4 linked regions of the Homo sapiens genome follow. The protein of the gene in region 1 interacts with the protein of each later gene in a biochemical or structural test. Each region holds a gene or a part of one and is shown in the gene's direction. Other genes may lie near its edges. The genes, in order: ERBB2, ITK, ABL1 and SH2B2.

What was found.
Region 2: the proteins of ERBB2 (region 1) and ITK form a complex in vitro, tested with the Homo sapiens proteins (2 studies listed by BioGRID and IntAct, with this or other methods).
Region 3: the proteins of ERBB2 (region 1) and ABL1 form a complex in vitro, tested with the Homo sapiens proteins (3 studies listed by BioGRID and IntAct, with this or other methods).
Region 4: the proteins of ERBB2 (region 1) and SH2B2 form a complex in vitro, tested with the Homo sapiens proteins (2 studies listed by BioGRID and IntAct, with this or other methods).

The regions. Positions count from the first base shown.
Region 1 is NC_000017.11:39,702,792-39,710,352, forward strand, and holds part of ERBB2 (receptor tyrosine-protein kinase erbB-2 isoform a precursor), read left to right. Parts: exon of another isoform or gene 1-123; intron 124-4,198; coding exon 4,199-4,350; exon of another isoform or gene 4,351-4,413; intron 4,414-5,529; coding exon 5,530-5,743; intron 5,744-6,451; coding exon of another isoform or gene 6,452-6,526; coding exon 6,527-6,661; intron 6,662-7,021; coding exon 7,022-7,090; intron 7,091-7,294; coding exon 7,295-7,410; intron 7,411-7,548; coding exon 7,549-7,561. UniProt on the Homo sapiens protein: Protein tyrosine kinase that is part of several cell surface receptor complexes, but that apparently needs a coreceptor for ligand binding. Essential component of a neuregulin-receptor complex, although neuregulins do not interact with it alone.
Region 2 is NC_000005.10:157,176,423-157,183,937, forward strand, and holds the start of ITK (tyrosine-protein kinase ITK/TSK), read left to right. Parts: upstream 1-4,417; 5' UTR 4,418-4,555; coding exon 4,556-4,693; intron 4,694-7,515. UniProt on the Homo sapiens protein: Tyrosine kinase that plays an essential role in regulation of the adaptive immune response. Regulates the development, function and differentiation of conventional T-cells and nonconventional NKT-cells.
Region 3 is NC_000009.12:130,872,693-130,880,253, forward strand, and holds part of ABL1 (tyrosine-protein kinase ABL1), read left to right. Parts: intron 1-167; coding exon 168-345; intron 346-2,175; coding exon 2,176-2,360; intron 2,361-5,722; coding exon 5,723-5,875; intron 5,876-7,375; coding exon 7,376-7,465; intron 7,466-7,561. UniProt on the Homo sapiens protein: Non-receptor tyrosine-protein kinase that plays a role in many key processes linked to cell growth and survival such as cytoskeleton remodeling in response to extracellular stimuli, cell motility and adhesion, receptor endocytosis, autophagy, DNA damage response and apoptosis.
Region 4 is NC_000007.14:102,310,519-102,318,079, forward strand, and holds part of SH2B2 (SH2B adapter protein 2), read left to right. Parts: intron 1-3,817; coding exon 3,818-3,909; intron 3,910-3,993; coding exon 3,994-4,164; intron 4,165-6,668; coding exon 6,669-6,877; intron 6,878-7,561. UniProt on the Homo sapiens protein: Adapter protein for several members of the tyrosine kinase receptor family. Involved in multiple signaling pathways. May be involved in coupling from immunoreceptor to Ras signaling. Acts as a negative regulator of cytokine signaling in collaboration with CBL.

The DNA.
Region 1 (7,561 bases):
CTGTGAAGTAGGTGCACAGATGAGAAAATGGAAGTTCAGAGAAATGAAGCAACTTATCCAAGGCTCCCAGCTACCCAGTAATGTCCAGGGAATTTTTGGACTCTGAAGAGGAGGCATTAAGAGGTGGTTAGAGTCTTATTCCAGCCAACAATAATGGGTTGAACAAAGCCTTAGGGGCAGGCAGGTGGCCAGATGGGAGGAGAAGCGCTCCTCTTGTTCAGGCGAATGACCTTTCCATCCACTTCTCTAGGCTGTAGAAAGTGGAGCTGAGCTGGGGGCCCTGAGGTTCCCTCTTGACTTCAGAGTCCTCTCCCTTCCTGTCCAGCCAATGCCTGTCTTCCTTTTGGGCCCTACCAGCATGACAGGGGGCTGCGGGCAGGAGGGGACAGAGGCCACGTTGACACACAGGGCTGTGGGTGAGAGAGACAGCTGAAGTGTCAGCGTGAGGGGCCAGTGTGGGGCTGCGGCTGGGAGGGCTGGGGTGGGGCCCAGGGTAGTTGTGCCTGTCCTTGGGTGATGGAATGATCTGGAAAGAGATTCCTTCCCTGCCCTCCACCTGTGAGAAGCCCCTCTAGAGTGACATCTCCATCTTATGTTTGGCCACCCATCCTCCCCCTGGGAAGAGAGCCGAGGTGGGGTAAGGGATGTGTACTCTTTCAAGGAGTGGGAGAATTATTCTAGCGAATGTTTGTGTTGTCCCAGTTCTGTTTACAAAGCCTCGTCATGTTTACAGATGGCTGCGCAATTCATTACCTCATTTAACTCTCATGTACCTCCTCTGAGGGAGTAAGAGCTGTTACAGCCAAGTTTAGGTCAGTAAATATTCACCAAGTTGCAGGTACTGCAGGGCATAGAGATGAATCCGATTTAGCTTCTGCCCTGGAGGTCTGGGAACTTGCTCAAGATCACTCAGTGAGCAGCTGAGCTAGGGTTCTCAACTAAAGACCCTGGGCCCAGGCCCTGGTCTGATGTCAGGCCTGATACACCAGGTGTTTGTGGTCGGGGAATCCCAGTGTCACTTGAATGGGCTGTGACATTATGGGTCTGGGAGAGCTGAGCTTTGGGGACACAGGTCATTTTACTGTAGTATTCATGGAAACCAAGGGAAGTATTGGCTTTTCTGCTGTGAGCAAGAGGAGCAGCTGGGGCTGCAAGCTGGTGGGGAGGAGAGAACCCACCTGAGAGAAACCTCAGGACTGGGGTCAAGTCCTGACCACCAGAGTCCAGAGAGACATGAAGGACTGTGACCAGCTCTGAGCAGAGAGATGGATTCCATGACCTCAACTGGTCCCTTTTGTTCGGAGACTCGTGACTGGACTTCATTCATCCACTCATTCATTCATTCACTCAGCAGACACTTATCTAGCGCTCCCTGTGGCTGGTCCTGCCTCATACTGTCTTTGCTCTGGAGAATTGGAGGTTGGGGTTCCTGAGGGGCAGGGTCCTGGAGACAAGGACACTCCTGGGTAGAATTAGGACCTACCCCCCAGGAAATCAACGGGGACCAGGTGCCGTGGCTCACACCTGTAATCCCAGCACTTTGGGAGGCCGAGACGGGCGGATCACAAGGTCAGCAGTTCAGGACCAGCCTGGCCAACATGGTGAAACCCGCCTCAACTAAAAATACAAAAATTAGCCAGGTGTGGTGTCAGGCACCCGTAATCCCAGCTACTGAGGAGGCTGAGGCAGGAGAATTGCTTGAACCCGGGAGGCAGAGGTTGCAGTGAGCCGAGATTGCGCCACTGCACTCCAGCCTGGCGACAGGGCGAGACTCCATCTCAAAAAAAGAAAACCAATGGGACAGGGCAGATATGGGGACAATGGTAAGGAGATGGGAGAGTGGGAGGGAGGTGTCAGGAAGACCTTCTTGACTTCATGTAGGCTGGTGGGGGTGTTAGCCAGCAAGCCTCCAGTTCCCTGGGAACCGTTCTCAGGGTACCAATTTTACCACCTGTCTGCAAACACTTTAAGATTCTTAATCAGACTCAAATTGGCCACAAATCAGGTAAACAAACTCACTAGTGGGGTGGGGCTACCACCCGTTCTGACCCTCCAGCCCAACCCAGCCCAGCCACCCTGCCCTCCGTAGAGCCTGTGGTGTTTATCGGTGGCATTGGGAGAATTAGTGTGTATTTATGTTGGCGTGGGGTGTGGGGTGGATTTGTGTGTGTGCAGTTAGGCCTAGTGGAAGGAATGTGGGATCTGAAGGCAGGCCAGCCTGAGTTCCAGTCCTGCCTGTTGCTCACAAGCTTTATGAGGCGAGAGCTAACCCCTGCCAGCCTCAGTTGTCTTCTTTGCAAGATGGAGGTTGCAGCCCCAGTCTCTGGAGCATGTTATGCAGATCCACCGAGAGTGCCTGCCAGGCACACAGTAGGTGCTCAGCTCAGTTACTGTGGCGGCCCCCACTCCCCATTGTTGTTGTTTTCCTATTGCCTGGCGGCCACAGCTGGTATCCCTTGAAAAGGGCTACAGGGGGTGGAGTCGGACCCTGCCCCAGCCCTGTGGAGACCCTGGGCTTGGGCCAGGGCCTGGGGTCTGGGCCTGCAGACAGCTGTGTCTATAAAGCAGCTGAAGGGCTGAGGCCGGGGGAGGTCCTGGCAGCAGGGCGTTATTTTGGGCCTGGCCTGCCACCCCCAGCTCCTGTTTCTCTTGGGAGTCTGTTGGGGGAGGAAGTGTGGGGAAGAGGAGGGGGTGCAAGTGGGTGAGGCATGGAGTGGGGAGGCCTCCCTCAGGGACATGGACCCTTGAGTTCTATTTCTGTTCCTCCCTCCTGTTCCTCCCTCTTTGTCCTTATCTGCCTAGAGAGGTGGGAATAGAGGCCATTCTGAGTATCACTAGGAGACCACCAGTTTGTGGCCACTGGCCACTGGCCCAGGCAGGGAACCTGGGGGCTTGCCCTACCAGCCTCTCCCAGCAATCTGAAGGCAGGGGGTACCTCGTATTACCCCCTAGGATTTGACCTTAGGCTCCAACTTGCTGGGAGAGCAGTGCCTCTGGTGTCAGACCCCAAGCCAGCCCTTGTGCTGTCCCTGAATCTGCATGTAGCCTGTGGGAGGCGGAGCAGTGACCGGCAGGAATTCTGGGCAGCTCAGGCACCTGTGGGCCTGAGGGTGCCCTCTGCCCCCACCCTTCCGATCTCCTGGGCAAGACACGCCAGGTGATTCATCTCACCAGAGCAGAAAAACAAGTTCAACTGGGCACTTTAATCTCCCCTCACTGGCAGGCCTGGTGTGAGCTGCTACCCCGGCGCCCCTCACCAGGGGTGCTTTACCTCCTCTAGTATTCCTGACCTTAGTGGGCATTTCTGGTCTCAGGGATACCAGGCTGGGGTCCAAGTGGGCCAGGTGTGGCAGTTCAGCCCTATGCCCCATGGCTGATGGCTCGCGCTGGGCAGGTATGCAGGGCTGACGTAGTGCCTTTGTGGCAGCAGTTTCGTGGCACACATTCTGCCAGCTGGTTCTGGAGTCTTGCCCTGAGGAGGTGGCCAGGGTGAGGGTGCCAGCGCAGGAACCTTTGGCGCATGCTTCACCCTGGCCTGGGATCTGCAGCCTGGGTCCAGATGCCCACAACTGGAATCTGACGCTCCTTTTCTCTTCATGGGGGACTCCCAGAGGTCTCTGCAATGACCAGAGCCCCGGTTGTCCCATGCCTCAGCTGCAACTCCAGCTGACCCTCCTTCCCCACTCTCTGGGTGGCATTACGGGGGTGTGGATCCCTTGCCAAGAGGTTGGCATGTGGGTGTGCTGGAATGGCATAGGGAGAATGCACCGAGTTTGTTTGCTTGGGAGAGGGGCAGGGGGTATCCAGAAGATTCATGATTCGTCATCGCCTCTCTTGGGGGATTTTTACCCCTTTGCCCTGAGTTGTGCCTTTGGGACAAAGGAAGCCTTTCTTTGCCAGCCAACACCCTGTACTGGCGGGCGAGCTCCCCAGGGCTGGCACGCTGGGGCAGCCTCTGAATGCACAGGGTGGGCCTAGTCAGAAGAAGCCTTTCCCCTGAAATCCCTCTACTTCCCAAGCACGCAAGCTTTCTCCTGCTGTTAAACCTGCAGTGTGCAAGGGACATGGGCGGAGGGGTCCTTCAGTCAGGCTTCTCCCTGTCTGAGGTGGCATGACTTGGAGTGAGTTTGGATGGGGTGGCCAGGTCTGAGAAGGTCCCCCGCCAGTGTCCTCTGACCCATCTGCTCTCTCCTGCCAGTGTGCACCGGCACAGACATGAAGCTGCGGCTCCCTGCCAGTCCCGAGACCCACCTGGACATGCTCCGCCACCTCTACCAGGGCTGCCAGGTGGTGCAGGGAAACCTGGAACTCACCTACCTGCCCACCAATGCCAGCCTGTCCTTCCTGCAGGTGAGGCCCGTGGGCAACCCAGCCAGGCCCTGCCTCCAGCTGGGCTGAGCCCTCTGTTTACAGGTGGGTGGCAGAAGAAGGTGCCCTGCCCTTCTGTTTCCTCTCTTGTTGTGGTTTCTCAACCAGGAAGTCCTTTCTAACATCTAACCCCCATTCATTTTACTGCAGAATCAGTTGACTCTCTCTATAACGTGGCTGGCCGAGGTCATGTCTGGATGGGATGCGTCTGTGTTTCCGCTAAATCTTGTGCTCTCTTGCCAGCATGATCATGTCCCCTGTCCACCTGCTCCAGCCACTATCCCTCTCCCACTTACAGCAGAAGAAAGGGCTGGTGAGAAAGGTGGATTACAGGCCCACTTCTGCCACTGACGAGCCCTATGAATGTGGCCTACACCCCCTTAGCTTCACTGGGTCTCAGTTTCCCTATCTGTATATTGGGAGCAGTTGTGAAGCTCAGAAGAGAAATGTCTGTGAAAAGGTTATGAACAGGAGGGAGAGTGGAAACCAACCTGCTGGATCGTGTCCACAGACCCTGGAATGGGGCCACATGCTTGGTTTGTCAAATTGCAGACGCCGGCCGGGTGCGATGGCTCATGCCTGTAATCCCAGCACTTTGGGAGGCCGAGGCGGACAGATCACTTGAGGTCGGGAGTTCGAGACCAGCCTGACCAACATGGAGAAACCCCGTCTCTACTGAAAATACAAAATTAGCCAGGCATGGTGGCACATGCCTATAATCCCAGCTACTTGGGAAGGCTGAGGCAGGAGAATCACTTGAACCTGGGAGACGGAGGTTGTGGTGAGCCTAGATCGTGCCATTGTACTCCAGCCTGGGCAACAAGAGTGAAACTCCGTCTCAAAAAAAAAAAATTTGCAGACGCCATCCCATCCAGGCCTTTGCTTTCACTGATGAAGAAACTGAGATACAGAGAGGGCAGGGCACCTGTTCGGAGTTTATGAAATGCCCCCCCACCATTATCTTTCTTGATCATATAAGAATCTGGTGAGGCAAGGTAGGGCGTGATCTTTATCTCTATTTTATCGTTTTATTTAAGCGGGAACAGGACTGCTCAGTGGCTGGGGGCCTTGCCCAAGATCTCCAAGTACTGGGGAACCCCAGGGAGGCCCTGGGGGGTGGCAGTGTTCCTATTTCAGCCCCACTCTGCTTCCCCCTCCCAGGATATCCAGGAGGTGCAGGGCTACGTGCTCATCGCTCACAACCAAGTGAGGCAGGTCCCACTGCAGAGGCTGCGGATTGTGCGAGGCACCCAGCTCTTTGAGGACAACTATGCCCTGGCCGTGCTAGACAATGGAGACCCGCTGAACAATACCACCCCTGTCACAGGGGCCTCCCCAGGAGGCCTGCGGGAGCTGCAGCTTCGAAGCCTCACAGGTGGCCTTCACCGTCATTGAAACCTTCTCTTGGTTATTCAGAGCTGACCAGGGCCACTGCTAACCAGGGGGAGGCTTTGTGTGCATTAGAAATGGTGTCCCTTCTGGGCAGACGCAGGCAGAGCCCGGGAAGACGCCCTCAGAAGATTGGAAAAAGATTCCCCTTCTTCCTGGGAAGTTGTAGCTTGCGTCAGCACATATAATTCAATCGTGAGAATGCAGGCTGGGTTTTTGCCCCCACTTGGCTGAGTGAAGTGTACAGTGAACAACCTATGTAACTATTTGCTGGCCCTGGAGCCGACTCTGCCCCAGAGTCTGGGTGCCAGGTGCTTTGCCCGCATGGCCCATTTCAGTCACGCTGCAGTCCTGTCAGGAAAAAATCAGTGTTATTCTCATTCTACATATGAGAAAACTGAGGCTTGCAGATATAAGGGCCAAAAGTTACACAGCTAGTGAGTGATGGGGCTGAGTTTCAGACTCCACAGTCTCTTAACCACCAAGCAGCATGCCCAGAGTAGAGGTGAGAAGGAAGGAGAGAGCTGCGGTCCACATGAGCATCTGGACCTAGCATGGACAACTCACTCCTCCCTGGCTCTCGCTTTGTTCTTGTTGCGGGTGTGGTGGTGGTGGGACTCAAAGACGGTAAAGATAGCTTTCTCTCCTCCCTGGGGAATCTGGGGGTTGTTTAAAAGGCCTGCTCCTCTTTTAGAAGGCAGGAGGGCCCCAAGGGAAGCAGAAGGTGACAGAAGGGGAAAGGGTCCTCTGATCATTGCTCACCCCACAGAGATCTTGAAAGGAGGGGTCTTGATCCAGCGGAACCCCCAGCTCTGCTACCAGGACACGATTTTGTGGAAGGACATCTTCCACAAGAACAACCAGCTGGCTCTCACACTGATAGACACCAACCGCTCTCGGGCCTGTAAGCCATGCCCCTCCCTGCTGCCTCTTCTCTCAGACAGCCTGACCCCAGCCGCAAACTCCCAACTTACAACCCAGTGCCTGCCCGCCACTGCCCCAGCCGCCTACACCACCCATTTCCTCCCTCTCTGTCCCTCCTGCCATCTCCCTGTGCCTCTTCATCTCTGGGGTTCTCTGTCTTGTCTCCCTCTGCTTATAGGTTGTGCCTCTGGTTTGGGGGCCTCTCAGCCTGTCTGGGTCCCTCCCTTGCTGTGCAGTTGGCCTCGTGGCCTCTGCTGCTGTTTGTGCCTCTCTCTGTTACTAACCCGTCCTCTCGCTGTTAGACATCTCTCTCACTGCCTGTCTCTGGTTCTGTCCTCAGGCCACCCCTGTTCTCCGATGTGTAAGGGCTCCCGCTGCTGGGGAGAGAGTTCTGAGGATTGTCAGAGCCGTGAGTCTCAGGGAGGCCTGGAGTCAGGGAAGGGGAGGGCTGGGGCCGGGTGGAATGCAGGTGTCATACAGGTGACATGGGAGGGGTGGGATAACAGGCTTGGGATGTCTCCCCTGGGCCAGGTAGTCTCCCTAGAAGGTGATGCTGATGAGGGTCTGGTGCCCAGGGCGCCACTCAGCCCTCATCCTGCCCTTTGCCCAACAGTGACGCGCACTGTCTGTGCCGGTGGCTGTGCCCGCTGCAAGGGGCCACTGCCCACTGACTGCTGCCATGAGCAGTGTGCTGCCGGCTGCACGGGCCCCAAGCACTCTGACTGCCTGGTATGTGCCTCTGCTTTGTGCCCAATGTGCTCTACCCCCCAGGATGCAAGGGGTGGGCACCCTGCCTGGTACTGCCCTATTGCCCCTGGCACACCAGGGCAAAACAGCACAGTGAAAGCCAGCCACCTGTCCCCCCAGGCCTGCCTCCACT
Region 2 (7,515 bases), on another chromosome or scaffold:
CAACTCCTACATCAGGGAAACAGTTGTCAGAACCTTCAGCTGGAAAATCTCTGAAAACAGCAAAGCACATGAAACATGCAAGAAAAAGCAGCAATTGTTCATCCACCACATCCCAAGGACATCATCCCCAGATTACTGCTGCAGCTTCATGAACGTTGCACCCTTTACCCCTCTTCCTCTTTTCCCTCCAGCCTGAGCTTCCGACTCAGGTGTGTCAGAAACCAGGCTTGTGTGTGGGAAAAGAGAGGTTAGGACATGGTGGAAAAGCCAACATGCTTCAAATCCTGAAGCAAACCCATGCAAAGTTACGGAAAAGCATCAACTTGAATACATGTTTGGAGTTTTGATTATTACCTTGAACTGAACTGGGCTTTCTTTTTCTTTTCTTTGTATTGTTGTTGTTGTTGTTGTTTTGAGACAGAGTTTTGCTCTTGTCACCCAGGCTGGAATGCAGTGGTTCAATCAGCTCACTGCAACCTCCGCCTCCTGGGTTTAAAGCTATTCTCCTGCCTCAGTATCCCAAGTAGCTGGGACTACAGCCACCTGCCACCATGCCCAGCTAATTTTTGTATTTTCAGTAGAGACGGGGTTTCACCATGTTGGCCAGGCTGGTCTCAAACTCCTGACCTCAGGTGATCCACCCGCCTCGGCCTCCCAAAGTGCTGAGATTACAGACGTGAGCCACCGCGCCCAGCCCCTTTTTCTTTGCTTAACTTTTTATTATGGAAATTTTCAAACGTGCATCGGTGCAAGGAGAGTAGAATAATGATGTACCCATTAGCCAGCTTTAGCAATTATCAAGTCATGGTCAAACAGTTTTCATCCCTTCCCCTACCAATTTCTCCCCCTCCACTGGATTATGATGAAGCAAATCATAAACATTTTATTGTTTTATCAATAATTCAGTGTATGTTTCTATACAAAATAAGGACTATTTTAACATGATAATAGTGCCATTATTACATCTTTTTTTTTTTTTTTTTTGAGATGGTGTCTTGCTCTGTTGCTCAGGCTGGAGTGCAGTGGTACCATCTCAGCTCACTGCAACCTCCGCCCTCCAGGTTCAAGCGATTCTCCTGCCTCAGTCTCCCAAGTAGCTGGAATTACAGGCACACAGCACGACACTCCACTGACTTTTGTATTTTTAGTAGAGACAGGATTTCACCATGTTGGCCAGGCTGGTCTCGAACTCCTGACCTCACGTGATCCGCCCACCTTAGCCTCCCAAAGTGCTGGGATTATAGGTGTGAGCCACCACACCCAGCCCATTATTACATCTTAAAAAATAACAAGTTTCTCAGTATTATCAAACATCTCTTTAACATTCAAATTTGTCTAATTGTCTCATAACGTCTTTATACAGTTGATTTGCTTAACTCTTAATCCAAAGTCCAAACATGCTCATATGTCTCTTAAAGTCTCTTTTAATCTAAGGGTTCCCCCTTTGATTTATTTGTTGTTTTGTTTTGCTTTTGTTTTTTGAGACAGAGTCTGGCTCTGTTACCCAGGCTGGAGTACAGTGCTGCAATCCCAGCTCACTGCAACCTCCACCCACTGGGCTCAAGTGATCCTCCCACTTCAGCCTCCCGAGTAGGCGGGACTACAGGTGTGTGCCACCATGCCTGGCTAATTTTTTGTAGAAAAAGGGTTTCACCATGTTGTTCAGGCTGGTCTTAAGCTCCTGGGCTCAAGCAATCCACCCCCTTGACCTCCCAAAGTGCTGGGCTTACAGGCATGAGCCACCGTGCCCTGCCCTCTATGACTTATTTGTTACTGATACTGAGTCATTTGTCCTTAGCATGTTTTGTATTCTGGACTCATCCAATTGCATCTCCACAGTGTCATTTGTCAGGTTCGTTTATCTCTTGTATTTCCTGTAAACTCGAATTTATATCTCGAAGTTTGATTAGATTTGTGTTTGATTTTGTTTTCTCTTGGCAAGACTCCCGAGTTGCCAGTTTTGTGTACTTCCTCTTGCTTCACCTCAGGAGACATACAATGTCTGGTTGTCCTTCTTTTAAGATTAATCAGTGTGTTACAGTGTTGTCAGCTTCATATGACAGTTATACATTTTCCTATTGGCTTTTTGCGTAATAATTTTAACAGCCATTGATGATCATTGCCTACATTTATTATTTCATTGGCATTGCAAAACGATAGTATTCTGTCACTCCTTCATTGATTAGTTTCTTGGAAAAAAAGAACTTCCTCATTAAATACTTGATCACTGAATTGAAAGATAATTCTTCAAGAAAAGCAAGCAATATGTTTTATTTTTTTCCTTTGTTTCCAGTTTTCAGAAAAACAAGTTGGTTCTTCAGCATCCTCCAAAAGTGATCAAAAGGTTGGGATGCTTTTTTCAATTCTCTTTTGAACTCATTGTTTTAACATTTTTGCTGTTCTTCAATTCATGGCAATTATTATTCCTTTTGATACTCAAATTGTTCCATCTTTGGCAAGTGGGAACTCCTTGAATTTGGCTCCTATGAAGTGAACTTTTTAAAACCAAAACAAACAAAGGGACTATTTGTTTTTGTTTATGTTTTCCTTAAAGTGAGAAAAAAATATTGAGCCTCCTAAGTTTGCATTTAAAAGTTGGCAAAGATGAGTCTCAGTTAGTGGGTTTGATGGCTCTATGAGAAAGAGAATAAAATTACTTACGATGACACTCCATGTAGACTGAGCAAACGAAAGACTCCTAAGTATTGCAACAGCTACTGATGATATTTTGTTTTCCCGGATGAGAACACTTTGTGAAGTCTATAACTCTTTTCATCTGAACCAAGCAGGTGTAAAATGTACTTTCCTCAGAGGAGTTTGTAGTCTAGTTTGAGAAGATAGCACTGTATTATCTAGGTTTGCTGGTAGTGACAGAAACCTCAAAATAACTGAGACTTAGAAAATAGATATTAAAAAATGTAATCCAGGGCTGGCATGGAAGATCCATGGTCACCAGGGTCCCAGGCTCTTTCTATCTTATACTCCATTGTCCTCAACATTCAATTTCCACCTCATGATACTAGATAGCTGCTTCAGCTCCAACTGTTACCTCAATATTCTAGTCACAAGGCAGGAGGAAAAGGGAAAGAAAAGGGGATGACAGATCCCACTAAGGAAATTTCCTAGAAGTTGTGCACACGACTTCTGCTACATTCAGTTGACCAGAAGACAGTCATACAACTACACCTAGCTACAAGGGAGGCTAAAATTTGTAGTCTTTATTCTTGCTGGCCAGATGCCCAGATAACTGTCAGGGATTCTGTTACTCTAGTAAGAAGGAGAGAGTAGCTATTTGGGAATAGTAGCAATCCCTACCTCAAGCCCATACTCAGAAAAAAAAAATACTATCTTGTTTGGGCAGTGTATTTCCACACATATGTCTTAAGAATCTCAGAATGGGGGAGGTAATTTAAAATATACCAGTACCGTACCCTCCTGGGTGTCTTGATTATGCTGGGGCATCCAGTATATGAAATAAAATTAGGCTGTTGTCTGGTAATTTACATTTAAAAATAAACATTGGAGAATTTCACTCCTATACAGCAATAATTATTATTTCATTTATTATTTATCCCTACCCACTACATGCAATATCTGCTTACACTAAAATCTCTTGATTATTAACATAGTAGAGGTAACTGTCACACATTATACTTCAACTATGTACTAACTCTAAGGTGACATGTATGACTAGCACCTACCATTCATAAGATGTATGGGATTCAGTCCTCCAAAGGACCCTCACAAGGAAGCTAAGGATCAGAGAAGTCATGGCTTGCTCAAAGAGAAACAGCATAGTAAGTGACAGAGCTGGGAATCCAACACAAGTTTGTCTGTTTTCAAAGCCCACATATACTTTGTTTATTATGCCATTCTGAAGGATTCACTTATTTTTCACTCTTCCACAAAACGTCAGGACAGAAAGGCAGTCATCTATATGTAGCATTGAGAAATTTCTATGGGCTTTAATTTAAATCTTAAAAACTAATAAACTTCAGCAACATATTTCTTCACTTTAATGTGTGAGGGTTTTGTGCTCATTACCTCTTTTAATTGTCCAACCCAATTTGGTGATGATCCATTCAACAAATTTTTCTTGAACATCTGTTTTATGTGTCAGGTACTGTGATGGTTGCTGAGTATATCATGGTAAGCAAAACCACACATTGTCCTTACTCCTTGTGCTACATGATTTAACTGCTGGATGGATTAAACCAGGAACTATAAAGATTAAACTGTAATCCTTACCACAATTTTGAGTTTACAGTTTTTCAAATATCATTTCAAGCCATTAGCAAAGGCTGTATGTATTTTTTACATATGCCTCCTCGTTTTGTGAATTTTGAAAGGATGTGGTTTCGGCCTTTGACATCAGAGGAGAAGCTCAGCTATGTTGGCTGAACGTTGATAGAAAGATAACGTTGAAGGCAAGTTGCCCTTGAGCAGCTCTCTGAAGATCAACTGCCTCCACATTGCATTCTTTGCCCCAAAACTCTTTCCTTTGGTTGTGCTAAGAGGTGATGCCCAAGGTGCACCACCTTTCAAGAACTGGATCATGAACAACTTTATCCTCCTGGAAGAACAGCTCATCAAGAAATCCCAACAAAAGAGAAGAACTTCTCCCTCGAACTTTAAAGTCCGCTTCTTTGTGTTAACCAAAGCCAGCCTGGCATACTTTGAAGATCGTCATGGGGTATGTGAGCAGTTTCATTTGTCTTTTTTCGCATAGCATTTTATGTTTGGACTGGGCTAATGCAAAAATATATACATAGCATAAAATAGAGCACAGGAAACACAAACATGCTTATTGTAACAACATAAAAAGTACAGTAAAAGTAATCAGAGGAGAATGCAGAGAGCAGTCAAGAGGTGAAATGGTGGTGCTAGGTGATTTCAGTTCTAAAAACTGTAAATTTAACATTCATCAGCTTTTTCCCCCTGCAAGGTTATGTTTGGTTTTTAAATTATGAATAACATTTTAGGTAGCAAGTATTATGATTCGATAAAACTTGAACTTTCTATGAAACATACTAAATTTAATGAAACATACTAAATTTAATGAAACATAGATTAATACAACACTAGCATTCAATGGGATGATCTACCCCAGCTTTCTTATTTTTTAGTGGAAGAAACTGGTGTTTAGAATGGTTAAGTTTTGGGTTCAGTGTTAACGTTTTCATGAATAACTCTGTTTGTCTCAATACTCGTCGCTAGCCTGATCTTGAAATAAGATTTCCCAGGCATTTAATTATCTAAAAGTTGTAAGGCACAATGGCAAACCTCTTCATCTCTTGATAGACTTCTTAGGACACCAGGGTTATTAAGAACAAAGTTTCTGCAGTGCAGACCAGCGGTTCTTACCCAGAAGGAGTATGGCTGCTTTGCTAGGTCAGTCTATCTCTTTATCTAAAAATAGTCTTGTGCTTCTTAACATCACTAATAACAAAAGCAACAGGAATAATCCTAATAATGTAGTTTGGTAGAAAAAGCATTGGACAAAGGGTCAGGAGACCAAACTCTACTTCTCAGTAGGTGATCCAGTCTGGGCAAATGTCTACCTCCTGTTTCAGGTTCTTTCTTCATAAAATGAAAAAACTGGAAATAACAACCTTCAAGATCCCTTTCTTCTTCAAAACTTCTTTGCTTTATGCAGTGGCTCTTGTTTAGCCCTATGCTGCAATTTTTCAAAGCATGTTTGATTTCTTACTGTATGGTTATATTATTTTTACATCATTAGTGGGGTAGGACAAGGATTATCACTTATATTTTACTGAAGGGAAAATAATATTAGGTGCCTGATGGTCACTTAGAAACAAAAGTGCTCCAGTTCTTTGTTGGAGTCTGACTTAGTAGGTGGTGGCATGAGTTTGGGATTCTTTGGTGTGCCAGGGTTTAAAGCACTTCATGAGATGGAGCTCCAGAGGAGGTCAGGCTGGGTATAGAGCCTATGGATGCCTCACTTTTTAAAGTTGCAGGTGTTGCATGTCTTTTGTGAATTAAAAAAATACAGAAAACAAAAAAGTTGCAGGCGAAATAGCTCTGCCTCTTTAGAAGTGAAAAGAATTGCTTGTCTTATTATCAGACTCTTACTGATAACAATTTACCAGTCAATCAGAAAACACATGGAATTACGTGCAAGTCCTCTTTGCTAGGTGGCCAGGAGCCCAGTTTGTGAACTTGGGGGATTTATCATGTAGAGCTAATAAATCGCATGGCATTACTCAATGCTTTTTTGTGAATGGAACATTTAAAGTTTTTGTTTCATATTGAAAGAACAGTCATGTACCTTTAAATATTTTTTTCAAAGTCCATTTTGCAGTTTTCACCAGTTCGTTTTTCTGATTCAACATAGTATCATCTCATTTAGTTAGTATTAATAATTCCTTAGCCCAACTGCTATTTGTGAACTGATTGTGAATTCAGCTCAATATTATTTGTAAGTAATCACAAAACCAGATGGCCTTAATTCAGAATATTATTGGTCATAATTTGCATGTAGACAAGGTTGTAAAATCACCCTACTTCTTTATCTGAGCATTATGGAAAATTTCAAGACAATTACTTCATTCTGGGGAGCCCTAGGCTACAGTTTCTAATTCTTCCATGTGAGATATAGAGAATACATGTCCAAACATCAAATTTCTTGTTTTCTAATGCCTTTTTTACTCTTATAAATAACATTTTAAAAGTATTTCTTTAATTATTTAATTATTATAGAAGTTTATTAATTAGAAATTTATCCAAGTTCCCTGAAAAAGGTAATATATGTGAATTATTATTGTTCATGTCTTAGGTATACTACATGGTTTCAGGCCACCAATTTGCACACAAGGCTGCATTAATATTACTCATAAGTAAATAACATTACACTTATGGGAAGAACATTTTCATTTTTAAATTAAAGGCTTCATTTTCAATCTGTAAAATGGGTGTGATAATAGTACCCATTTCATAGGAAGATGGCAAAGACTCAGAGGTATAATGTCTTTAGGCTGAACTTTTTGAAATTATTTGGCAGATCGAATATCAGATATTAGAAGTTTCAAACAATTCAACTTAATATATTAGGTACTTAGCATAGGCCCTGTCATCTGGTAAGCATCTAGTAAAAATTAACCATTATTTGTATCCCTTTCATGTCTCTACAGAAGCTAGCAGGCTGTCATAACAATTCATTTTCAAATTATGGGAGATATTCAAGGATTCTTCAAAGTCAAGCTAAGATCAGGGTCCTGGATTCCTTCTATTCTGTGGCTAAATATAAGTTTTGTGGGGTAGATATACATGCATTATGAGCTGTTTGGCCAGTTATTGCCCCTCTTAGGGTGTCGGGTGTCAGAGCTTCTTTTTCTCTTTTCTCATGTGTAAAATTATGATTCTTGCAGTTCTCATATTCTATGAATTTATAACACCATATGAAAAATAACCCTTCTACATACTCAAGAACATATTCTGTAATTCTAGAAATCAAGTATGTTTATTCTAACCTAAAAAATCATGCCTATTGTCATT
Region 3 (7,561 bases), on another chromosome or scaffold:
CCCACACGAGCACAGTCTCAGGATGCAGGTGCTTGGGACCATGTTGGAAGTTGGGCCCAGGACTGAGGAGCAGAGTCAGAATCCTTCAGAAGGCTTTTTCTTTAGACAGTTGTTTGTTCAGTTGGGAGCGGAGCCACGTGTTGAAGTCCTCGTTGTCTTGTTGGCAGGGGTCTGCACCCGGGAGCCCCCGTTCTATATCATCACTGAGTTCATGACCTACGGGAACCTCCTGGACTACCTGAGGGAGTGCAACCGGCAGGAGGTGAACGCCGTGGTGCTGCTGTACATGGCCACTCAGATCTCGTCAGCCATGGAGTACCTGGAGAAGAAAAACTTCATCCACAGGTAGGGGCCTGGCCAGGCAGCCTGCGCCATGGAGTCACAGGGCGTGGAGCCGGGCAGCCTTTTACAAAAAGCCCCAGCCTAGGAGGTCTCAGGGCGCAGCTTCTAACCTCAGTGCTGGCAACACATTGGACCTTGGAACAAAGGCAAACACTAGGCTCCTGGCAAAGCCAGCTTTGGGCATGCATCCAGGGCTAAATTCAGCCAGGCCTAGACTCTGGACCAGTGGAGCAGCTAATCCCCGGAGTAAGGAATATTTCATTTTTGAACCATTTTGGGCTAAGTGGAATATTAAATGAAGTTCATAAAAGGCGTCCTTCCTAATAATCACAGTCCCCTCTGAAAGAGAGTACTCATTGTTCCTCCGGGGCCAGCGCCCAGCAGTAATGGCCTCTTCCTGGGAGCCGCTGGCATTGCTTTTACGCAAACTCATGGGAACAACCAGTACATGGCTTTTGTTTTTTAGTGTGTGTGTCTTTTTTTCCTGCTTTCTCTTTATTATCTTTTCATTCTCCACTTAACTTGCTGTCCTCTGATTCAGGGATGTTTCCACAATTGTCAGAATTGTGTATGTGGAGGTCTAAATTAAGTGTCTTTGCTGTTTTAAACCCTGAAGTGTTTTGACCTTCAAATGTGCCACAATTATCTTGGTCTTCAAATTCTTTGCTGGTGGAAATGGCTTCCCAGCAAAGCGACGGCCTGTGCAGGACAGAGCCTGATGGGCTTTGCTGGCGTCTTTTATACGAGATGTTCTCCACACCACCACTGTGACCTTTCCTACCCAATTAGCTCAAGTATGAAACCTCTACATGAGATTTCATAGCAAGGAATAAGGGTAGCATGTGTGAAATGCTGGCGGCTCCTTGTAAGACAGATTTTCTATGCTCCATGAGAGCCTGATCCAGATACTCCTGGCTTTCAGGAAAGTGAATCCTCTGATGCTGCAAATTGAGATTGCTTGACTTCTGGTTTGCCTGGCACGGCCGGGTCCGTTCCTTCTTCATTCAAGCGAACTTAAAATGCTTTATCAAAATCCTCTTAGGCACAACTCTTCTGTATTTAATTTCACTCTTGTTGCTGACGATCAGGCTATCTCACGCAGCCATCACCTCAAGCTGCTGCCCCCTCTCATTCCGCTCTTCCCGTTTGCCTTGTGATTTCATGGTTAATGTTCATGAACCAAAGATTAGACTCCTACCTCCCTGGGAGAATCAGGAAGTGAGAGGAAGCAGATTATACAGGAGAGAGTTTTTTAGGATACATTTGGGTACACCTCAGGAAGAAAGAGGGAAGTAGGAAACACAGTTTGGGTAAAGAATGCCATGGGCTTTGTTTTATTTTGTCCCATCAAGTCTGAATAGGACAAGTGGAGATGCACTCTGATAGAAGTTTCTTGCAATCAAGGACTGGGCTCAGTGTTTGTCTCCGTGCCTGGCATAGAGTAGCAATAACTGCACTTACTATTCTCGACACTTCAATCAAAGCACTTAGCATATTAATTAATTACACTCACAGCAACCCTAAGAGGTAGGTGCCATTATTATCGTCTTCATTTTACGGATGAGGTAACTGAGTCCCAGGGTAATTAACTTGCTCCAGGTCATGAGGCCAGGGAGCCCGCTCCCAGCACCAGCCTCTCCCCATGTTGGGATCTCAGGGTGTGTTTGCTGAGAGGCTGGCACTGTGTTAATTGCCGTGGGCATTAATACAAACTTCCAGGGCATTGGACTCAATCTTTCCATTGTCAGCATTGCACCTTTGCTCAGCAGTGGTGGATTTGTGAAGTGGAAGGTTGGCCAGGAGCTCTCATGGGTGAACATTTTCCTTTCTTAGAGATCTTGCTGCCCGAAACTGCCTGGTAGGGGAGAACCACTTGGTGAAGGTAGCTGATTTTGGCCTGAGCAGGTTGATGACAGGGGACACCTACACAGCCCATGCTGGAGCCAAGTTCCCCATCAAATGGACTGCACCCGAGAGCCTGGCCTACAACAAGTTCTCCATCAAGTCCGACGTCTGGGGTAAGGGCTGCTGCTGCACTGAAGTGGTCCTTCCTGACTACAGGAGGGTTTTTTTCTGCCTCTTTCTTGCTCTTCCCTTTCTTTTCTTCCTTTCTTTTTGTTTTTTTGAGACGGAGTCTCACTCTGTCACCCAGGCTGGAGTGCAGTGGTGCAATCTTGGCTCATTGCAGCCTCTCCCTCCCGGGTTCAAGCGATTCTCCTGTCTCAGCATCTTGAGTAGCTGGGATTATAGGCACCCGCCACCACACCCAGCTAATTTTTGGTATTTTTAGTAGAGATGGGGTTTCACCATGTTGGCCAGGCTGGTCTAGAACTCCTGACCTCAGGTGATCTGCCTGCCTTGGCCTCCCAAAGTGCTGGGATTACAGGTGTGAGCCACTGTGCACAGCCACCCTTTTTTTTTTTTTTTTAACTGTGTATTTGGCCTGAGGTCCAAATATGGTGCACAGTGTATCTGCTGATCTGTTAAGTCTCCTCTATAAGCCCCCTCTCCATGTCTTTATTTCCCTTGCTGTTTATTGAAGAAACCATCCTTAGAGTTTCGTACGTTCTGGGTTTTGCTCATTGTCTCCCATGGTGTGATTTAATATGTTCCTCTGACTTCAGTATTCCTAGTAATGGGTGGCTGGATCTGGAACGGCCTCATCACATTCAGGTTTGACTGTTTCTCTTTTAGTAAGAGTGGATCAGGGGAGATGGTGTGCCCTTCCATCAGTAGATACAAAATGCTTCATTTATTTCCTTCCTTCCTTTCCTCCCCTCTCCCTCCCCTCCTCTCTTCTCCTTCTCCTTCCGACGGAGTTTCGCTCTTGTTGCCCAGGCTGGAGTGCAGTGGCACGATCTTGGCTCACTGCAACCTCTGCCTTCTGGTTTCAAGCGATTCTCCTGCCTCAGCCTCCTGAGTAGCTGGGATTATAGGCGCATGCCACCACCCCCGGCTAATTTTTGTATTTTTAGTAGAGACGGGGTTTTACCATGTTGGCCAGGATGGTCTCCAACTCCTGACTTCGTGATCCACCCACCTCGGCCTCCCAAAGTGCTGGGATTACAGGCGTGAGCCACCACGCCTGGCCCCAAAATGCTTGATTTGCTATCGTTTTTTTGTGGGGGTTTTTTTTTGAGTAATTTTTGGCAGTTACTGATATACAGTGCCTAGATCCAATAGTTTGCTAGGTATTGCCAGGTAGGAATTCTCTAATTCTGTCATTCCTGTTAAGTTACTAGTGGAAACTTGTATGAGGAGAAACAGTTCCTCATCTGTGTGGTTACTCAGTGGTACAGTTCATGTAGGAAGAGCAGGGTCAATTCTTGCTTCTTTGTTTTTATTTACCAGTTTTTAAAATAACAAATTACTTTTTCTTTTTTTTTTTTGGAGCCAGAGTCTTGCTTTTTCTGGGGTACAAAGTACAGGCTGGAGTTCAGTAGCATGATCTCGGCTCACTGCAACCTCCGCCTACCAGATTCAAGCAATTCTTCTGCCTCAGCCTCCCAAGTAGCTGGGATTACAGGTGCCTGCCACCACGCCTGGCTAAATTTTTTTGTATTTTTAGTAAAGATGGGGTTTCACCATGTTGCCCAGGCTGGCCTTGAACTTCTGAGCTCAGGCAGTCCACCTGCCTTGGCCTCCCAAAGTGCTGGGATTACAGGCGTGAGCCACCATGCCCTGCCACAAGTTGGTTTCTTTTTTTTTTTTTTTTTTTTTTTGAGACAGTCTCACTCTGTCGCCCAGGCTGGAGTGCAGTGGCATGATCTCAGCTCACTGCAAGCTCCGCCTTCCGGGTTCACGTCATTCTCCTGCCTCAGCCTCCCGAGTAGCTGAGACTATAGGCGCCCGCCGCCACACTCGGCCAATTTTTTTTCTATTTTTGTAGAGACGGGGTTTCACTGCGTTAGCCAGGATGGTCTCGATCTCCGGACTTCGTGATCCGCCCACCTTGGCCTCCCAAAGTGCACAAGTTAGTTTCTTAATACCCTTCAGTGGTGGCCAATTAGGTTTTTGCTGTCATTGGTGGTATTATGAACTCTCAGATTTATATATATCTGATGTGTTTCAGTCCACTGCGGTTATTTTCCCTGTTGATATTCAGATTGTCTCGTCTTTGGCCAGTGGGAACTTCACATTAGCTCCTAGTCATTTTGACATTAACTTTGTAGTTTTCCATGACGTCCGCGCCCTCAAATGACAAGCTATTGCAGGTTCATTCTGTGCCCCAGGCCTGAATCACCCATTTCTCTAAGGAATCTTATCCTTTAATGGGAAATGGAATTTTAAGGCAATAATCTCAGATTTCAAAACTTTCAAAGATTTCATAAGATTTTTATGAAATGTTTAGAGTTAGAAGGGGCTTTGGAGATAGTCTTGTGCACCCAGAAAGCAGTGGTGGCCGGTTAGGCACAGAGCTGGTTGGTCACAGAGCTAAGAGTTAACATGGCCAGCTGACTTCCGGCGCCAGGTTCCTTCTACCACATATCCCAGCAAGATGGTCACATTACCTAAAAGACCCCACAGGGTCTGAAACTCATCATCTGCCCTCCTCTAGCATGTTTGTGGGGTAAGTTTACTGAGTCTTGTTCTGTCCTGGTCTCCTTTTTTTTTTTTTATTTTTGAGACGGGGTCTTGCTCTGTCGCCCAGGCTGGCGTGCAGTGGAGCAATATCAGCTCACTACAACCTCCGTCTCCTGGGTTCAAGCAATTCTCCTGCCTCAGCCTCCAAAGTAGCCAGGACTACTGGCGTACACCACCACACCTGGCTAAATTTTTTTTTTTTTTTTGAGATGGAGTCTCGCTCTGTCACCCAGCCTGGAGTGCAGTGGCGCGATCTTGATCTTGGCTCACTGCAAGCTCCACCTCCTGGGTTCACACCATTCTCCTGCCTCAGCCTCCCGAGTAGCTGGGACTATAGGCATCTACCACCACGCCCGGCTAATTTTTTTGTATTTTTAGTAGAGACAGGGTTTCACCATGTTAGCCAGGATGGTCTCAATCTCCTGACCTCGTGATCCGCCCGCCTCGGCCTCCCAAAGTGCTGGGATTACAGGTGTGAGCCACCGTGCCCGGCCCCTAATTTTTGTATTTTTAGTAGAGATGGGGTTTCGCCATGTTGGCCAGGGTGGTCTTGAATTCCTGACCTCAAATAATCCTCCCACTTCAGCCTCCCAAAGTGCTGGGATTACAGGCGTGAGCCACCGCACCCAGCCTTGTCCTGGTCTTCTGATGATAAAGAGCCTGGTAAAATGTCAGAGCCTGGGCTGCTGCTGGGGCCATCCCTTCTGAGGTCTGCTGCAAAGGTAACTGATTTTAAATGTAGTGTAGTGAAATGCTACACATCTTGAACAGCCTTTCTCTTTCGGTTTTCTTTCAGCATTTGGAGTATTGCTTTGGGAAATTGCTACCTATGGCATGTCCCCTTACCCGGGAATTGACCTGTCCCAGGTGTATGAGCTGCTAGAGAAGGACTACCGCATGGAGCGCCCAGAAGGCTGCCCAGAGAAGGTCTATGAACTCATGCGAGCATGTAAGCCTTCCTCAGCCTGTTCTCACGAGTATATGTGGGCATTCCAGGAAATTCAACTGTGCAGGAGTGTGTACACAAAGTTGAAAGTTTTTCCATGAGCTCTCTCCATTCCAGTTCTTCAGATGCAGCTAATGTAGCCATTTGCTACCTATTGACCTTTATTTACAGATAAATAGTATGTGCGTGACTTGTCTTTTAAAGCAAAAATGGTATTGATAGATACCAAACCTGGGTGTATTCCTAAATACAGATTCCTGGGCCCTGCTTTCACAGACATTCTGCTATAGTAGCTAAGCTCATGAGGTGATTTTTTTTTTTTTTTTTTTTGAGACGGAGTTTCGCTCTTGTCGCCCAGGCTGGAGTACAATGGCGCAATGTTGGCTCACTTCAACCTCCACCTCCCTGGTTCAAGCGATTCTCCTGCCTCAGCCTCCCAAGTAGCTGGGATTACAGGCATGCACCACCACGCCCGGCTAATTTTGTATTTTTAGTAGAGATGGGGTTTCTCCATGTTAGTCAGGCTGGTCTCCAACTCCCAACCTCAGGTGATCTGCCTGCCTCGGCCTCCCAAAGTGCTGCGATTACAGGCGTGAGCCACCACGCCCAGCTGCGAGGTGATTTTTATCTGGTCGTTTTATACTGATTACATATGTGTTATCTGTACTATGCACACACAGGATGTTTTCATATATCTTATAAGGTATTTATATGGCCATTTCTTACACTGTTTTCCCACACATGTCTTTCCACGTCCATATATTCAGATCTCTCCCTCTCCCTACCTCTTATTTATGTATAGCTGCCCAGTACTCCATTTCACTCATTCATCCGGTCCTCTTTTGATGTGCATTTGGTTGTTTTACACATTTGTTTGGTTTTTGCCCTTATAAACAAAGCAGAAACAAATATTCATGTACACGAATCTCTGGGCACTTTGGCTGGTATTTCTAAAAGTTGAACTGTTGGTTCCAAGAACTGTGTGGGTTTTAAATTTTGATACATTTTACCAAACTGTTAAAAAAGGTTGTGCCATTGTATGCTCCAGTCAGACGCATATGGGAGTGACTGTTCCTGGTCCCCAGTACTAGGCTTTGTCAGTCTGTTTAGTCCTCATGTTAGTCTCATTTTCATGAGAATTTCTTTACTTCAGACTTTGATAACCGTGAAGAAAGAACAAGATAGAAGGTGAGCTGTTTGGCTTAGTAATTTTCTACACCTACTAGAGCGGGACTGGGAAAAATATATTTGTAAATGCAGTTCTTGCTGTCACTGTCTCTCTGGGGTTTTACAATCCATATTCCTGCCAGCATCTAACGTCTTTTCAAATTCTTAATGTCTATAACAGGACATGATGACATTCATCGTTTTGACTTGTTGCAGCAAAAGATGGTTAGCAGGATTGGAATGTTGCTTTCATTCTAGACTTTTCCTTGAGAACTGCTAGCCCCGTATTGCTAGCCAGATCTCATGGATGATCTGACTTGGGTTTCATCTGTCCAGGTTGGCAGTGGAATCCCTCTGACCGGCCCTCCTTTGCTGAAATCCACCAAGCCTTTGAAACAATGTTCCAGGAATCCAGTATCTCAGACGGTAAAGTACCCATCCCGGGGTACCTGCAGTGGGGTGAAAGGGCAGCCATGTGGGACTGCAGCCTGGGTCATTCGGTTCACTTCCTGGTGAAAGTTC
Region 4 (7,561 bases), on another chromosome or scaffold:
AAGGTTGGCTCCACCATCCAGGAGAGATGCCAGGCCAGGAGTAGGAGGGATAGGCAGCCCGACAGGCTGAGCAATTGGCAGCAGCTCTGCTGGCTAATGGGGTGAGCCAAGCCCCGGGGGGAAGGGCCGCTGCTTTCTAATTAACAGCTTCATTTAAAGAAACACAATTAAGGTCCTGGGCGCCTCCCAGGCCCTGATCCACAAAGTGATTGTAATCCCTCCTCCACCGCCCTCCGGACCATCTGCTCTGCAAACTCTTTCCCCAGCCGCTGTGAAGGTGAACCTCACTTAGTGGAATTTTCGAGCTGGCAGGGTCCCAGACACCTCATGTCACAAATCGGGAGAGAAACCTTCCCACCCTCTGAGGGTCTGCACGGGATCCCAGGAGGAGCCCAGCCCCTCAAGGATAGTGGGCAGGGATCATGGGCCCTCAGTGGGGACTGTCCACTCAGTGGTATCCGGGCCAAGAGAGAGCCTTCCCCTGGGCTTTCTGAAGTTTCAGTGGAAAATCAATTTGCAAATGGCAGATAAATGAGAGAAAAGGCATACAAATTTATTTATTTATTTTTATTTTATTATTTTATTTTTTAGAGGTAAGGTCTTGCTCTGTCACCCAGGCTGGAGTACAGTGGTGCAATCAAGCTCACTGCAGCCTCGACCTCCTGGGCTCGACTGATCTGCCTGCCTCAGCCTCCCAAGTAACTGGGACTGTAGGCACATGCCACGATGACTGGCTTAATTTTTTTTTTTTTTTGAGATGGAGTCTCGCTCCATCATCCAGGCTGGAATGTAATGGCACAATCTCAGCTCACTGCAACCTCCACCTCGCAGGTTCAAGCAATTCTCCTGCCTCAGCCTCCCAAGTAGCTGAGATTATAGGCACCTGCCAACAAGCCCAGCTAATTTTTATATTTTTAGCAGAGACGGGGTTTCCCCATGGTGGTCAGGCTCGTCTCGAACTCTTGACCTCAGGTGATCTGACAACCTCATCATCCCAAAGTGCTGGGATTACAGGCGTGAGCCACTGCAACTGGCCTTTTTTTTTTTTTTTTTTTTTTTAGAGACGGGATCGGGATCGTGCTATGTTGTCCAGGCTGGTCTTGAATTCCTGGGTTCAAGAGACCCGCCTGCCTCGGCCTCCCAAAGCACTGGGATTACAGGCATGAGCCACAGTGCTTAGCTGCACAAGGCAGATTAATAGGAGAAAAAGCATGTAAATTTATTTAACGTGTATACATAGGAGCCTTCAGAATGAAGACTCAAAGATACAGGGGAGGGCTGGGCGTGGTGGTGCACGCCTGTAATCCCAGCACTTTGGGAGGCTGAGGCAGGCACATCACCTGAGGTCAGGAGTTCGAGACCAGCCTGGCCAACATGGGGAAACCCCATCTCTACTAAAAATGCAAAAATTAGCTGGAGGTGGAGGCGGGCCCGCTGTGATCCCAGCTACTCAGGAGGCTGAGACAGGAGAATTGCTTGAACCTGGGAGGCGGAGGTTGCAGTGAGCTGAGATTGCACCACTGAACTCCACTGGGTGACAGAGTGAGACTCAGTCTCAAAAAAAAAAAAAAAATCCCAGGCATGGTGGCTCATGCCTGTAATCCCAGTACTTTGGGAGGCCGAGGCAGGCGGATCACGAGGTCAGGAGTTTGAGACCAGCTTGGCCAACATGGTGAAACCTCATCTCTACTAAAAATACAAAAATTAGCTGGGCCTGGTGGTGGCATGCACCTGTAATCCCAGCTACTTGGGAGGCTGAGGCAGGAGAATCACTTGAACCTGGGAGGCAGAGGTTGCAGTGAGCCGAGATCACACCACTGCACTCCAGCCTGGGCAACAGAGGGAGACTCTGTCTCAAAAAAAGGATACAGGGAAATGGTCCATTTTTATGCTTAGGTTCAGCAAAGTATGGACAGCAGTGTAGAAAGAGGATTGGATACAAAGGGTAGGATCTAAAGGGAATAGACTGAGCAGGGGACCCAGCCAGGCCTGTCTGTCCAGATTCTTCTTGGCCTCTCTGAGTAGCATTCCTTCCTTCTGGGTGTGGGACAGAACCCTATCTTGAATGGGGGTCTTATGACCTACAGTCAAACCAGGCAGATTGGGTAATTTCTTTCTTTCTTTTTTTCTTTCTTTCTTGCTTTCCTTTCCTTCTTCCGTTTCTTTCTTTCCTTTTGTTTTTACTTTTTTTTTCTGCTCCGTTGCCCAAGCAGGAGGGCAGTGGGGCATGATCACAGCTCACTGCAGCCTCCAACTCCTGGACTCCATTGACCCTCCTGCCTCACCACCACGCCCAGCTAATTTTCTTTTATTAAGATGAGATTCTCAGGGCCGGGCGCGGTGGCTCATGCCTGTAATCCCAACACTTTGGAAGGCCAAGGTGGGCGGATCACCTGAGGTTGGGAGTTTGAGATCAGCCTGGCCAACATGGAGAAACCCCATCTCTACTAAAAATACAAAATCAGCCGGGCGTGGTGGTACATGCCTGTAATATCAGCTACTCGGGAGGCTGAGGCAGGAGAATTGCTTGAACCCCCGGGAGGCAGAGGTTGCAGTGAGCCAGGATTGCGTCATTGCACTCCAGCCTGGGCAACAAGAGCAAAACTCTGTCTAAAAAAAAAAAAAAAAAAAAAGACGTGTTCTTGCGGCCAGGTGCAGTGGCTCACGCCTGTAATCCCCACACTCTGGGAGGCCAAGGCGGGCAGATCACCAGTTTGAGACCAGCGTGGCCAACATGGTGAAACCCCATCTCTGCAAAAAATACAAAAAAAAAAAAAAAATTAGCTGGGCATGGTGGCGCATGCTTGTGATCCCAGCTACTCAGGAGGCTGAGGCAGGGGAATCACTTGAACCCGGGAGGCAGAAGTTGCGGTGAGCTGAGATCGTGCCACTGCACTCCAGCCTGGGTGACAGAGCAAGACTCCCATCTCAAAACAAACAAACAAACAAAAAAGATGGGGGTCTCGCTATGTTGCCCGAGCTGATCTCAAACTCCTGACCTCAAGTGATCCTCCCACCTCAGCCTCCCAGAATGCTAGGATTACAAACATGAGCCACTGTGCCTGGCTGGATAATTTCTTTATGACAAGTTTTTACATAGAATATTTTTAGGTTGGCCGGGCGCAGTGGCTCACGCCTGTAATCCCAGCATTTTTGGAGGACGAGGCAGGCAGATCACGAGGTCAGTTTGAGACCAGCCTGGCCAACACAGTGAAACCTCATCTCTACTAAAAATACAAAAAAATTAGCCGGGCATGGTGGCAGATGCCTGTAATCCCAGCTACTCAGGAGGCTGAGGCAGGAGAATCGCTTGAACCCAGGAGGCAGAGGCAAAGTGAGCCGAGATCGCGCCACTGCACTCCAGCCCTGGCAACAGAGTGAGACTCCGTCTCAAAAAAAAAAAAAGAATATTTTTAGGTTTTATGACTACGTTTTGGGAAAAGGGGTTCTGGTTTCTGTGACCCACCTTGGGAAAAAGGGACTTTTGTTTCTCTGGTGCCTCTGGGGAGAAGAGGACTGAGAGACAAGTAGGCAGGAGAAGGTCAGAGAAAAACTTTTTTGTTCGAGGCTGCTGCTGAGGACTTTGTTTTGCGGTATTGTTTTCTGAGCCCCAACAGTGGCCTGGTCAATCACACGGTGGCCACAGAGCCAGTGTAGGGTGGGACAGAGGGACATGGAGGCAGAGGGAGGTGACCAGAGCCAGGAGGCCTAGATGCTGGGCCATGGGACTGCCAGCCACTGCCTGGCCACATAAGTAGCCTGTGGTCCGAGTCCAAGTCCCACGGCAGGACATGGTTTCCATTTCTTGTCTCCACAGTGACAGTGAGGAAGACACCGAGCTCTCCTGTACCCGAGGAGGCTGTCTGGCCAGCCGCGTGGCCTCCTGCAGCTGTGAGCTCCTGACTGATGGTAGGTAGGGGGACAGGGTTGAAGGAGGGGCACACTCAGGGTGGACAGATAAAGATACGTGCATCTTACCTGCCACTTCCCCAGCAGTCGACCTGCCCCGCCCCCCAGAGACGACAGCCGTGGGTGCAGTGGTGACAGCCCCCCACAGCCGAGGTCGAGATGCCGTCAGAGAATCCCTGATCCACGTCCCGCTAGAGACCTTTCTGCAGACCCTGGAATCCCCGGGCGGCAGCGGCAGTGACAGCAATAACACAGGTGCCAGTGGGGACAGCCTGCTCTTCCCATCCCACCTCTCCTGGACCCCCACCCCCAGCCATGGCCACCCATGGGCTCCCTAAACCTTGCTAAGCCTCAGAAGCTGTGACATCTCATCCTCCTGGGTCCTTCACACGTCTCCGAAGTACTTCTGGCTTTTGTAGACTGGTCTAGGAACCTGGCCCCTCCCACTGGACCCAGTTTCAATAGAAAATGTTCACAGGGGCCGGGTGCGGTGGCTCACGCCTGTAATCCCAACACTTTGGGAAGCCAAGGCGGGCGGATCACCTGAGGTCAGGAGTTTGAGACCAGCCTGGCTAACATGGCAAAACCCCGTCACTACTAAAAATATAAAAATTAGCTGGGTGTGGTGGTGCACACATGTACTCACAGCTACTCGGGAGGCTGAGGCAGGAAAATCACTTGAACCCGGGAGGCGGAGGTTGCAGTGAGCCAAGATCACGCCACTGCACTCCAGCCTGGGCGACAGAGTGAGACTATGTCTCAAAAAAAAAAGAAAGAAAAGAAAATGCTCACAGGGGCTGGGTGCAGTGTCTCACACCTGTAATCCCAGCCAGTGTTTTTTGAGGCTGAGGATCACTTGAAGCCAGGAGTTTGAGACTAGCCTGGACAACATAGCAAGACGCTATCTGTACAAAATTTTTGAGACAAGAGTCTCACTTTGTTGCCCACGCTGGAGTGCAGTGGCGGATCACAACTCACTGCAACCTCCACCCCCAAGTCCAAGCAATTCTCACGTCTCAGCCTCCCGAGTAGCTGAGATTACTGGTGCCCGCCACCTCGCCTGGCTCATTTTTGTATTTTTGGTAGAGATGGGGTTTTGCCATGTTGGCCAGGCTGATCTTGAACTCCTGCCCTAAGTGCTGGAATTATAGGTGTGAGCCACCACGCCTGGCCACAAACATTTTTGTGCCTGTAGTCCCAGCTACTTGGGAGGCCGAGGTGGGAGGATCACTTGAGCCCAGGAGGTCAAGCCTACAGTGAACTGTGATCACACCATTGCACTCCAGCCTGAGCAACAGAGAGAGACCCTGTGAAAAGAAAAAAAAAAAAAAAAAAGAAAAGAAAAGAAGAAAGGAGGGAGGGAGGGAGGGAGGGAAGGAAGGAGCTCACAGAAAAGGGTCCATAGGGTTGGAATCAGGGATTGGGAACAGGCGACTGGATTTGTTCCTAAGTTTGCTGATGACTTACAGAGTAACTCCAGGATAGTCCTTCACAGCTCTGTGCCTCAGTTTACCTCATAGACTTCACCAGTGGGTTGGGTCAGCTCCCTGCCCAACTCTAAAATTATTCCAGCTGGGCACAGTGGCTCATACCTGTAATCTCAGCACTTCAAGCAGCCAAGGCAGGAGGATCGTTTGAGCCCAGGACTTCCAGACTAGTCTGGGCAACAAGACTCTGTCTCTACAAAAAATAAACAAAAATTAGCCAGGCATTGTGGCACAGGCTTATAGTCCTAGCTACCCAGGAGGCTGAGGTGGGAGGATTGCTTGAGCCCAGGAGGCCAAGGCTGCAGTGAGCTATGATTGTGCCACTAGACTTCAGCCTGGGTGACAGAGCAAGACCCTATCTCAAAAAATAAATAAATAAATAAAATTATTTGGCTGGGCGCAGTGGCTCACACCTGTAATCCCAGCACTTTGGGAGGCCAAGACGGGCGGATTGCCTGAGCTCAGGAGTTAAGACCGGCCTGAGCAACATGGTGAAACCCTGTCTCTACTAAAAATACAAAAATTAGCCTGGTATAGTGGTGCATGACTGTAATCCCAGATACTTGGGAGGCTGAGGCAGGAGAATCACTAGAACCTGCAAGACGGAGGTTGCAGTGAGTCGAGATCACGCCACTGCATTCCAGCCTGGGCAACAGAGCAAGACTCTGTCTCAAACAAAAAAATATTCAGGCCAGGTGCAGTGGCTCACACCTGTAATCCCAGCACTTTGGGAGGCCAAGGCAGGAGGATCACTTGAGCCTAGGAGTTTGAGACCAGCCTGGGGAACACAGCAAGACTCCATCTCTAAAAAATAAAAAATAAGGCTGGGCGCAATGGCTTACACCTATAATCGCAGCACTTTGGGAGGCCGAGGTGGGTGGATCATCTGAGGTCAGGAGTTTGAGACCAGCCTGACCAACACAGTGAAACCCCATCTCTACTAAAAATACAAAAATTAGTTGGGTGTGGTGGTGGGCGCCTGTAATCCCAGCTACTCGGGAGGCTGAGGCAGGAGAATCGCTTGAACCCGGAAGGCAGAGGTTACAGTCAGCCACCGGGATTGCAGCATTGCACTCCAGCCTGGGCGACAAGAGCGAAACTTCGTCTCAAAAAAAAAATAAAAACTAAAAACCAACCAACTTTTTAAACATTATTCCAACAGCATTTTGCATGTAAAAAAACCAACAAGACGTCACCTCTCTTCTCACATTTATTTATTTGTCCCCCTTTCTCCTTCCCCCCATGTTCCTCACACTGTCATCCCCACCTCAGGGGAACAGGGTGCAGAGACGGATCCCGAGGCTGAACCCGAGCTGGAGCTATCCGACTACCCATGGTTCCACGGGACACTGTCCCGGGTCAAGGCTGCTCAACTGGTTCTGGCAGGGGGGCCCCGGAACCACGGCCTCTTCGTGATCCGCCAAAGTGAGACTCGGCCTGGGGAGTACGTGCTGACCTTCAACTTCCAGGGCAAGGCCAAGGCAAGTGTGTGGGGGGCGCCATGGGGGTGCAGTGGCCAGCCCTGAGGGAGAGGGGTCATGGTGACCCCGGTCCTGAGGCTGTGCCCTGGAAGCAGCTGCAGGCGAACAGGTGTGGCATGACTTCCCACGGGCCCCACTCACCCCAGCCATGCTCCGTGAGCCACCTGCGTCCCTCCTACACATCACTGAGGGACTGCAGTCAGCCCTATTTCAGCCTCTGCATTCTCCAGAAGGGGAGGCCACCTACTGGCGGCTGAGCCCTCAGGAGGCTGGGCCCTTCTAATAACCCAAATTTGCAAATCCTTTCAGCTCCTGCGCGCGGGGGATCTCATAGCACTGGAGCTTCGGAGGGTCTCCACCCAGAGATCGCCCAGTGGGGGGTGGGAGCCAACCAAGGCCCTCAGAGCCCCACCTTCTGCCCCACCGACCTCAGACAGCCCCTCTTCCCTGCCCAGGTTAGGTCACCAACCCCTGAGGAACACACACGGGCAAACCCTAGAGACCCAGCAGGGGAGGAGGAGCTGGGCTGGGTGGGAGAGCTGTGCAGGGTCTAGGGGGTGGGGTTCAGCATTGGAGGGGACAGCCTGATCAGAGACCTGCAGGGGAGGGAGAATTGTGGAGGGGAAGACAGTCAGGAAGGCGATCCCAACAGCACCCAGCTGGATCAGAGGCATGATGGTACAC